3 linked regions of the Homo sapiens genome follow. The protein of the gene in region 3 purifies or fractionates together with the protein of the main gene of each other region. This does not show direct contact. Each region holds a gene or a part of one and is shown on either strand. Other genes may lie near its edges. The genes, in order: LBR, ABCC1 and TMEM33.

Region 1 (3,652 bases), on a different chromosome or scaffold from region 3:
AGTACCTCCAGCTCCCCCTGACACCCCAGCTCCCCAAGCACCTCCAGCTCCCACAGCTCTCCCTGCTCCCCTGCTTTCCCAGCTCCCCACGAGGCCAGACACACAAAAAGAAAAACAGAATCTCTTTCTCTTCTTAAAAACCAAAGTTTTTCCCAATCTATGTACACTGAATCATGAATTAAGAAGCTGAATTAATTTCTATATATTCTACTTAGAAAAAAGCTATCAGGCACAGCTGAAAACTTAAAATAGTGCTTTTAGGCTTAAAGTAAAACTTCAGGCTCTGTGAATTCCCAATTCCCCTCAGAAGCCAGAGGAGCTTCTACAGAGGCCAACCTCACAGTAGAAAAGGGCGACAAAAAGACTCACACCCACCTTGGCCACACTGTCCCACACAAAGGACACACACACACATCTTTCTGGCGGCTAAAAGGGTCAAACTAGCACTCTTCTGAAATGCTTACCACATGGGAGGGACCACGCCAAGGCCATGATGAGATCACCCAAGTAATTGGGGTGGCGAACAAAGCCCCACCATCCAGAAACTAGAAGATTTTTTCCCGTTGAAGTATGAATGGTTTTTAAATCTATATAAAAATAAAAGTACATTTTTAATGATGTCGAGACAAAAAGAAAAATAAAACCTTCATGTAATATATATAATATAAACATAAATCAATACTTACGTGCAAGCTTTGGATCACTGGGATTTTTCCGGAATGCATTTTTCTGAGAATTTGCACCTCGGAAGATTACATAACCACAAACTGCAATTTTAAAATATTTTCCTATGTTAATAACTTAGTTATACTCTAATGCTTAATAGCATCTGTAATTTCTCTTAAAAATGATTTCTATGCTCTGAGGAAATTTCCAAAGCAGACTCCTAGGCTCAAGAGATCCTCCTGCTTCAGCCTCCCAAAGTGCTGGGATTACAGGCATGAGCCACCGCACCTGGCCTGATTCTTAAGAACAACTCAAAACCTCTAAATCCCACTATGTAAAAAGATGGTAACCCGTCCGAAATCTATCACACTACTTTAATCATCCACCTAGGAAACGCTCTGAAGGCAAAACAAATATAGTTACATCCATGAAAGAGATAAAATCTAAGATAGCCTACATTACAATAAAATCAATACTAGAGTTCAGTGTAATCAAAATTACAAGCTATATCATCTGTTAGTTATACCTACTGGCCATGGCACAAACATTTTATTATCAAACACTAGCTTAGAATCAGCACCAAAACATCCTGCACTTTAAATACATGCTGAATCCCACTTTAAGTCTATAAGTTCCTAATTTTATCCAAATTTCAGAATGTCAAAAATCAATCTATCACTGACATTTAACTATTATATAGTCGATCCTCAATAAACTAGTAAGAGAATAACTTTACTTCCTGCTTTGGTTTGAATGTGTTCTCCAAAGTTCACGTGTTGGAAACGTAATCCTCAATGCAACAGTGTGGAGAGGTAGCACCTTTAAGAGATGATTAGGTCATGAGGGTTCTGCCCTCATGGACAGATTAATGTGGCTATCACAGGAGTGGGCTCAGTATCTCGAGTGGGTTTGTTATAAAAGTATGTTCAGCCCCTCTTGCTCTTCCTCACTCTCTCTTGCCCTCCCTCACTCTCTCTTGTCCTTCCACCTTCCACCCTGGGATGCTGCAGCAGAAGGGGTCTTGCCAGATTCCAGCACCATGCTCTTTGACTTCCTGGCCTCCAGAACCATGAGCCAAATAAATTTCATGACAAATTACCTAGTCTCAGCTATTCTGTTCGAGCAGCACAAAACAAACTAAGACATTCCCCATTTTTAGCTGAACTATAAAATACACTGTCTTGAATAATAAAATGGATGACATGGACATCCAAACCACTGGTGAAACTAAATCTTAATTTTAACCAATGGTTTGAACTTCTTCTACCACAGATACTAACTTGTGTAGCAAAACTATCTGTATTTGCAGTTCACTGCTAATTTTCCCTGCCCAACCTCTAGTATAAGTGTTTAGTGAACAGTGTAAGAACAATGAAAATTCATCCTGAAGTAAAATCCATGACTGACCCTGGTGGACCGCAGCTGCAGCCAAACTGGACTTCTCAGTCTTTCCCAACCTCATCTCACACTTCCCCACCACACACCCTTGCTGAGCTGTTCCCAGTGCCTGACTTTTCGATCTCCCCATCCCATTTTCCCCTCTAAAACTCCAATCGAACACCATATCCTCCGATAAGTTCACACTAACGCTCCCCAGAGAGAAGTTCTCTCTATCTTTAACACCCGTCATCTAAGCCCCTCTTAGTGCTCACTCACACACCTCACAGCAAGGCAGGAATGTCTTATTTCTCCTGTTAGAATGTGAGCTCTATGAAGGCAAGACAAATCTTCTTACTTTATAAGATGCCTACCAGAAAAAGCAGGCACTCAAGAGAAAAGACGTATGGTTACCAAAACGAATTAAAACAACTTAAATTTATTAAATTTAAAAGCAAGATGGTTTAAAATAATCTGTTTCAAGTACTACTGAGAACCCAAGTACGAACCATCCATTCTCTTTGCAAAATGCAGATTTTTTATTACTCATGATAAATGGCTTCAAACTGAGCTAATGCTGGCCATTCAAAATGGCATGTTTCAAGTATGTAGACAGCAGGGCATAAAAGCCTCAGTACATAATATTTAATAAATTAAACTGAGACTAAAATTAATACTCACGTTTCAGAACAATAATTAGAGAAGCCATTGGCCAAGACACTTCATTTGGATGACTGACTAAATAAAAGGCTTGGAAGCTGTAAATAAAGGGAACCCACACCAAGTCTCCAAAAGCCAGCATGAATCCAAATCCATCGTGGATGATGTCCATGGTCGTCAACAACGCTTCCTATAAGGATACAGACGGGGAAAGGGAGAAGGAGCTTCTGTGTTTAAAGTATTCAAATAAAGTACTAGTTTACAGGCAAATGTAAAAAGTGCTATGGGCGGGTCCACAATCAACATTTTTTTGTTAAAGGGGAGAGAGATCTGGTTCCCCTGGCCTGCTAGGTCTTTCTGCTGTCACATTCTCCCGTCACGCCAGCCTCTCGCTCATGCTCTGGAGATAACAGATCTCTAAAGCATCTCCCATGCCCCCATGCCCAGGCCCTCCCCTCTGCTGACAACCCCTCCTCCAACCTCCACATAGGCCCTACACCCTCTGCTGCCCTCCTGACCTGCTGCTCAGACCTGGGCACTTCTCAGATATCACCACCCACCAGTAGGCTGCAGTAATTGGGTTACTGTACTTGTCTAGTCACTCTTCACTACACTAAAAGCCTCTAAAAGACAGAGGCTGTGTGTTTTCACCTTTGCCACCCCAGTACCTAGCACAGTGCCCGCCATGGAGAGAAGTGTTCAAAATATGCTTGCTGAAGGAATAAGATCACCAACTCTTTTTGTTTCAATTCCACATGGACCAATCTAATTTCTGTTCATAATCTGGCATTTCATGTGCATTTTCCACAGAAGAAATTAAGCTGCCTGGCAACATGGTGAACTGACAGCTTCGCTTCTCATGTAAATTAATAAAAGTGCATTACTCCCTGGTGATTTGGTTAGCATGAGCCAGATCGCCTCTGGCCCAGGATACGGGCAGGCCAGACTC
Region 2 (3,752 bases), on a different chromosome or scaffold from region 3:
AAGACTCTGTCTCAAAAAAGAAAAAGAAAAAAAAAAGAAAAGAAAAAAGCAACAACTACCTACTTTCTAGCTTTCAGTTAATTATATTTCAATTTTCCCACTCAGGCCCCAGTTGCCTCCTCTCAAATTCTGGTTCCAAGGCACCTCCAACAAGTCTTGGAATCCAGACAGCAGAAATACGCAAGGTCAAACACGGGGATGGGGTACCTACCAGAGGCAGAGATCAGCTACAATTACCCCCAAGCAAAACCCAACCACCTGGCAATTTCTGTGGCAGAAAGTCCTTAACGAAGGAAAAAATAAAAAGAAAAAAGAAAATAAAAATTTTAAAAAATATTACAACTGGACTTCGTGAATGAGTTTCTTAAGATAAACAAAGCGCACCCCAAACATACTCATTAGCCATCAACTACCAATTGCCATCAATAAAATACGTCCTGATACAAAACCTCATGGATGTTCACCCTGTTTTGCCCCCTCCTCAATTCAGAAGAAAATAAACAAGAGAATATTCTGGAATTCACAGCAACACAAACCCAGATCACCATGTGAATCTTTGCAAAAAATAATCTTGCTGTTACTACACCTGGCAACAAGGAAGCCACAGGTTTTCCCCTGCTAAAGAAAGTCCATCTGCAAAGAGGCTCCAATCACCCCCAGACCCTCAAGGCAAAGTCTGTGTTCTATTTCCACCCCTGGGGTTACTCTCCAACCCCACTGGCTTAAAATGGGAGATATATCAAAGTGTGGTAGGTTATTAAACACAATGATACCCTACTAAAAAAAACAAACAAACAAAACCAAACCCTCCAATGGGGCCCTGGAGGATGACTTTTCAACACTCCAAATGCAACCCTCGAGGAAAGGCCGGCAAAACAGGACAAGAAAGTATTTTTGGAAGCTGATCACCAGCTCCTAAGAACCAAGGCTGTTTCTCCTGATTCCTAAACAAAAGAGGAGAGAGAAACAGTCGTGTCCAGATTTGCCTACTGCGTTCACCAACAATCAAGACAGCACGAGACAGAAGTGCCTGCCTTCCTGGAACAAAGAGGCAAATCGCATTACGGAGAAGCTGAAGCCCAAAAGACTGGGGCTTAAACCACAGCAAGTGGACTCCAGACACCCAGTCAGGCTCCGCAGGCCACGTTACAGAAGAAAACTTGCCGGGGTTAAATCTAAGGGGCATCCCCAGAGAGGAGCTCCACGTGTTGCAGGGAAGGGAGGGCAGGACCACAGCTACCAGGGTCCTGGGCGTCCTCAGCTGCACCCCAAGTCTGCCCCGAGCCGAGGGTCAGGTAGGGCACATCAAGGGTGGACATCCCCCTTCTTCCCTGGTTCCCCCAAACTTCCCCCGCAGTATCTAAGTAGAAAGAACAAAAAAAACAAAGCTAGGTAACCACAGAAGAGTAATGTGGCTTGTACGACAACTTTGGGGAGACAATGAAAGTCCCTTTCTACAATCTAAGCCCCTCCCCAGCTCACCCCGTTGGTCACGGAGTATTTTTCGTGAAAAGGGGGGACCCTAACCACAAAAAAGATGGGAAAACAGAAGCAGAGAGACACCCCTCTTCCCGCCCCCCATCTCTAGCGTCCCCTTCCCTGGAAGGTTGTTTTTACAGACGGGAACCCCAAAACAGGAAGGCCTCCTCACGGCGGCTCTGACCCGACCCGACCCTCCAAAACCCCAGGGCTGGGCACGCGGCCCCCCACGCTCTGCTCCGCAGGAACTGAGTCACCCAAGTTTCCCCCATGCCTTGCACCCCCGAAAGGGGCTGGGCCGCGGGCGACGTGAGGGTCCCGGGCCCCCGAGGCCGGCAGCAGAGCGGGGAGCGGGGTGCCCCGGGCGGCTGCGGGCCCGGTGCTTTCCCTCCCCGCCGGCCTCCCTCCGTCCCGCCGGCCTCACGCGGCCCCCGGCACGTACCCAGAGCGGGTCGGAGCCATCGGCGCTGCAGAAGCCCCGGAGCGCCATGCCGGTGGCGCGGGCGGCGGCGGGCACCGGGCGGCGGGTGATCGGGCCCGGTTGCTGGCGCGGGCGGCGGCGGGCACCGGGCGGCGGGTGATCGGGCCCGGCTGCTGGCGCTAGCGCTGGCGGCGGCGGCGGCGGCGGCGCAGGGAGCCGGGGCCGGGGCCGCAACGCCGCCTGGTTGGCCCGCGCGTCACGGGGATGCGGCGGCCCCGCCCCACCCCGCCCCGCCCCGGCGCCCGCTCACCTCGCGCGTCTCGGCGTGGGCAGCCGGACCAGCCACCTCTCGGCGCCCCGGGCCTGGACCCCGCGCCACCCCCACCCCAGATCCTCCAAGGCTTAGGCCCACCCGCTCGCGGACGGGCCTGGGGAGCGTTGGCTCGCCTTCCGGAAGCGCCTGGGATCTTTGGGGCCACACACCCTGCGACCACTTTTCAAATGCTGTTTAAGGACAGTATCCGTCACCAGGGGAAAATAACGTGAACGGAGCCCCCTACCTGCCTGGAGTGTACCGGGCGCCTTAACTGTGCCCTCATTTCATCCTGTAAAGTCTCCACGTTCATGAAGGAAGAAACCCAGGTGCAGAGAGGTTGAGTGATTCCCTCTGCCCAGGGTCACCTGGCTAATCACTTGCAGGGCTGGGATTTGAACCCGGTCCGCTGACTCCAAAGCTGAGTCACACAGAAGGAGGTGAATACTGTTATTCACCTACCTTTTACAGATGGGGAAACTGAGGTTCAGAAAGGCGAAGTGACTTGCCCGAGGTCACACAGTTAATAAGGAGTGAAAGTGGAAGTGAGATTCAAACCCGTGAGCAGCCTGATTCCGGAGCACTGATGACCCAGACGGCGCCAGTCTCCATCACTAACAGCTGTTGACCTCACCTGTGTGCAGAGCGCCTTTGCTTCTTCTCAACCTCTTTAAGCATCACTTAGAAATAACCAGGTTATTGATCCTCACCTCAGAGGTAAGGAAACTGAAGCCTGGAGACATGATAATCGTAGGCCAGGCATGGTGGCTCGTGCTTGTAATCAAGCACTTTGGGAAGCCGAGGCGGGCCGATCACATAAGGTCAGGAGTTCAAGACCAGCCTAGCCAACATAGCAAAACCCTGTCTCTACTAAAAACACAAAAATTAGCCGGGCATGGTGGCGGGCACCTGTAGTCCCAGCTACTTGAGAAGCTGAAACAGGAGAATCACTTGAACCTGGGAGGCGGAGGTTGAAATGAGCTTAGATCACACCACTGCACTCCAGCCTGGGCAACAGAGCAAGACTCTGTCTCAAAAAATAATAATAAAAAAAATTAATATGCATTCACAGTGACAAGGCTTCCTAAGGCTGTGTTCTTAGCAATTTACACAAATTAACTTGTGCAATCCTCACAACCCCATGAGGTAAGAAGTAGTATTATCCCCATTTTGCAGATGAGGCCACTAAGGCCCAGAAAGACAGAGTACATTGTCAGGGATTATTTAGATGGTAAGTGATTAAGCCAAACTTTGAACCCAAGAAGTCTGGCCAGGGAGGTGGGAAGTCTATAATACCATCCATTGCGCCATATTAGTTTTGAACTGTTTCATAGGCAGACAGGTAGAGACAGAGGAGCTAGGGCGAGGCCGCAGAGTGTAAATTTCACTGTGATACCAGCGATGCCTTTCTTTTCTCCTCTCCTCCTTAATCTCCTGCCTGATGTGGGTTTCCATAACACATGCACACAACAGCTGCACCAAATAAAACAGAAACAGTGTGTGCATTTGAGACCTCCCCCCAATCAAAGGACCTAGCGA
Region 3 (3,652 bases):
CTTTTTAAATTATAGGAAAAAACTAACAGCTTCAAAATAAACATGACTTCAGCTGCCAAAATTTCTTGATATAATTCAAGACTTCATTTTTTAAAACATAATTAGAAATCAACATTATGTTTACTTAACATTATAGTCATTTTATTGCTCTAGAAAGTTTAGTTTCTAAAACCATTGGATTACTTACATAGTGACAATAAGACTAGCCACATACACAAAATCAACTGTATGAGGCTGCTTCTCCAGCTTAGTGGACAAATATTACAAAAATACAAAAATAGCTGATTATAGTTAAGCTATCAAGTATAATTTTTCATGTATTTATCCTAAGAATATCCCCTTTTTATAGATAAGGAGATGAACAAAAATAAAACTAATGTTACTGATAAATTACTAATGAATGTATTTGAGAAATCCAAATTACATGCAGACAGAAACTGGTCACAAAAACCATTACATTTCTCTATACTAAAACTGTACAATGTTTTAAACATTTCCAATCATGCAACGGTAATGAAGATCAGCATGAATTTTATAAGAGTTGATGGGAGTTCAATGAACAGGATTTAACACATTTTACAACCCAAATCAAAGTTGAATAATACATCCAATTCCCCTAAATTTATCTATGCGTTGAGACTGAAATGCACATTATTCCCCCACAACTCCTCCCCCTACCCCATTCCCAATCAATTACCTTACCTATAAAACCTTCCATTTAACCTTTTAAGTCAGATTTGATGGGTAAACATGTAATCTACAGTATACTCTCCATTATTATTTCAGGATAGACACACATATAGTCAGATGCTGAATCTTCATTACATTCCTTTCAAAAGGCATCTAAACTGTTGCAATTGTCTATGAAAATTCAAGCCTAAGAAACCAAGAAAACTGGCAGTCAAGATTCTGAACTAGGTAGTTCTACAAACTATAATACGAATAATCTATATGTCCACATTAGTAAAAGAAGGATTTCCTGTTTGAGAAATGTTTCTCAATGGCTCTTTGAAGGGAAAGCTGTGTCACTACTGCTTTCTGCTTTCAATGGCTAGGTGACCCCAAATATTTATCCAACTGGCTAAGAGGCTTACAGTTGAGCCTTTTAAAAAATACTCAAGGCCACAGAAGTACTTACGGAAATAAAATTTTAGAAGATCATAGTTTAAGATACATAGAATTCTTCTTATAATGGTACATTCAAAACACATCTGTCCTAACAAAGCAGCATAAAACCAATTAAAAAAACAATTTGAAATTAAATACACTGAGAAGTGTTAAAATCATTAACCAAAATTACTGAATGGTAGAATACTGTCTCAAAATGTACTGAATTCACATATGTGTATCACCATAATGAATTCATGCCAGATATAAACTCAGGTTACCAATTAGGTTGAAACAAATTTTAGAGCTATTTTTTTTACATGAGAAATTAATGTACTTCATGATATAGGCACAACAGCATCTTTTTAAAAAAACTGGTATATTTATCACTAGATACAGACTTCTTTAACCATTAGCAACACAGCGCAGTAAAATTTTCTCAAAACTTTTTAAGCTTGATTTAACATGCCAAGAAAATGATTATTTTTCCACCGAGATGCATTTATGTAAATTATGTAAATTGGATTGAGGTCAGTGTAACACCTGGAATTTACAACCCCTAGCAGAAGTACCAGCTGCTAATAATGCTTATACTATATTTGTAGCTTAACTAGATGTTAAACTATGGAACTGTTGGTGCCAATCTGCTTATAAAGGCAATGCTCTGGAGACAAAGTCTTCTCACAAACAGTGGGCAAGCAGGTTTCATTATTATGTGTTCAACAACAATCCTCAGTTCATTAAATAAGGTCCTGCAAGACAAAATAGTTTTCTTTGAGAAACACAAGGAAAAAGCAATACACAGGCTTACCTCATTTTATTGTACTCCATAGATATTTCATTTTTTACAAATTGAAGGTTTGTTGCAACACCGCATACAGCAAGACTATCAGTGCCACTTTCCAACAGCATGTGCTCACTTCATGTCTCTGCGTCACACTTTGCCAATTCTTCCACTATTTCAAATGTTTTCATTATTAATCTATTATGGTGATCTGTGATCTGTTCTGTTACGGTGATCTCTTTGGTGTTACTATTGTAACTGTTTTGGGGCACCACAAACTGCACAAATATAAGATGAAGCAGTTCATGAAGGCCATTCCTGATTGGTCTCTTTCCCTCTCCTCAGACCTACCTATTCTTTGAGACACAATACTGAAATTAGGCCAATTAATAACCCTGTAATGGCCTCTAAGTGCTCAGGTGAAAGGAGGCCTCCCATGTCTGTTACTTTAGATGAAAACTAGAAATGATTAAGCTTAGTGAAAAAAGCATGGCTAAAGCTAAGACAGGCCAAAAGCTAGACCTCTTGTGCCAAATAGCCAAGCTGTGAATGCAAAGGAAAAGTTCCTGAAGAAAATTAAAAGCCCATTTCTGTGAACGGATGAATGATAAGAAAGCAGAACAGCCTTACTGCTGATGGTAATGCTATTGCGCACTTAGCAGACTACAGTAGAGTGTAAACATAACTTCTGTATGCACTGGAAAACCAAAAAATTCATCTGACAGCTTTGTGATATTCACTTTATTGTGGTAGTCTGGAACCACTCCCACAACATTTCTGAAGTATGCCTCTAATGCTAAACAAATACTCATGAAGGAATCTACCATAGCCATTAGAATTTGAAGTAAAAGAATAACTAGAATGCATTGTAGAGAAAACACAAAATACAATGAAATTCTCAAACAACACCTACATCTTTTATGGGTGGAAACACTCATTTAACAAAGGTATTTAATAAATGGCTATCTCTAAAACCTCAGATTAAATTTTAAAAATTATATATATATATTTTAGAGTCACATCATTTTCACATTTAACTTAGGCAATTTCAACTAGTTTTTTAAAACAGAACAAGAAAAAATATACTACATGGACAGTGTTTTTTATATATTTTAAAATATATAACATGGACAGTTATATTTATTCACCCACTATTTCCTTAAATGTACATATTGTCCCTCAGAGATTTCCTCTTCTGTAAAATAATTCTGAGTTGTGGTGAAATTTAAATGCAATATGGAAGATGCTCAATAAATGTTACTTCCCAGTTGGATCAATACACTGAACTATGACTCTTTTATGCCTTCCGACTAAAGCCCAAGTACTCGGTGTCACACCCAATACCCTCCACAATCTAGTCTCAATCTAATTTTCTGCCCCATCTCCTGCCACTCCCTGCCCTCGCTCCTATCATCAACTTATGTTGCATGTTTGTGCCCAAAACCATGTGGGCTTTGCCTATGTCTTAACTGTGCTCACTGCCTACAAAGTATTATTACATACTGTAGATATCACATATATTATACAGGCTAGTATACACAAAATCATGTATACTGTACTGACATTTATAAGTGATATGAAGGATCATCAAGGGTAATTTTAACCATTCACAATTTTCACCTTATGTGCTGACTCATCCTGTATAAAGATGCAACTACTATTCTACCTTTTTGTGTCCTGTTTTACTTCTATGGTTAGAAAAAAAGCAACAAATCTACTTTTCTAAACAAGTATTTAATATGCTTGCACAGAAAGACAGGA

What was found.
Region 1: the proteins of TMEM33 (region 3) and LBR purify together in Homo sapiens (affinity purification with western blotting, with the first as the bait; one study listed by BioGRID). This does not show direct contact.
Region 2: the proteins of TMEM33 (region 3) and ABCC1 fractionate together in Homo sapiens (co-fractionation; one large-scale study listed by BioGRID). This does not show direct contact.

Annotation. Positions count from the first base shown.
Region 1 is NC_000001.11:225,403,940-225,407,591, forward strand, and holds part of LBR (delta(14)-sterol reductase LBR), read right to left. Parts: intron 2,894-3,652; coding exon 2,725-2,893; intron 768-2,724; coding exon 687-767; intron 588-686; coding exon 465-587; intron 1-464. UniProt on the Homo sapiens protein: Catalyzes the reduction of the C14-unsaturated bond of lanosterol, as part of the metabolic pathway leading to cholesterol biosynthesis.
Region 2 is NC_000016.10:15,947,969-15,951,720, reverse strand, and holds the start of ABCC1 (multidrug resistance-associated protein 1), read right to left. Parts: upstream 2,106-3,752; 5' UTR 1,970-2,105; coding exon 1,922-1,969; intron 1-1,921.
Region 3 is NC_000004.12:41,952,277-41,955,928, reverse strand, and holds part of TMEM33 (transmembrane protein 33), read right to left. Parts: intron 1,860-3,652; coding exon 1,730-1,859; 3' UTR 1-1,729. UniProt on the Homo sapiens protein: Acts as a regulator of the tubular endoplasmic reticulum (ER) network by modulating intracellular calcium homeostasis. Mechanistically, stimulates PKD2 calcium-dependent activity. Suppresses the RTN3/4-induced formation of the ER tubules.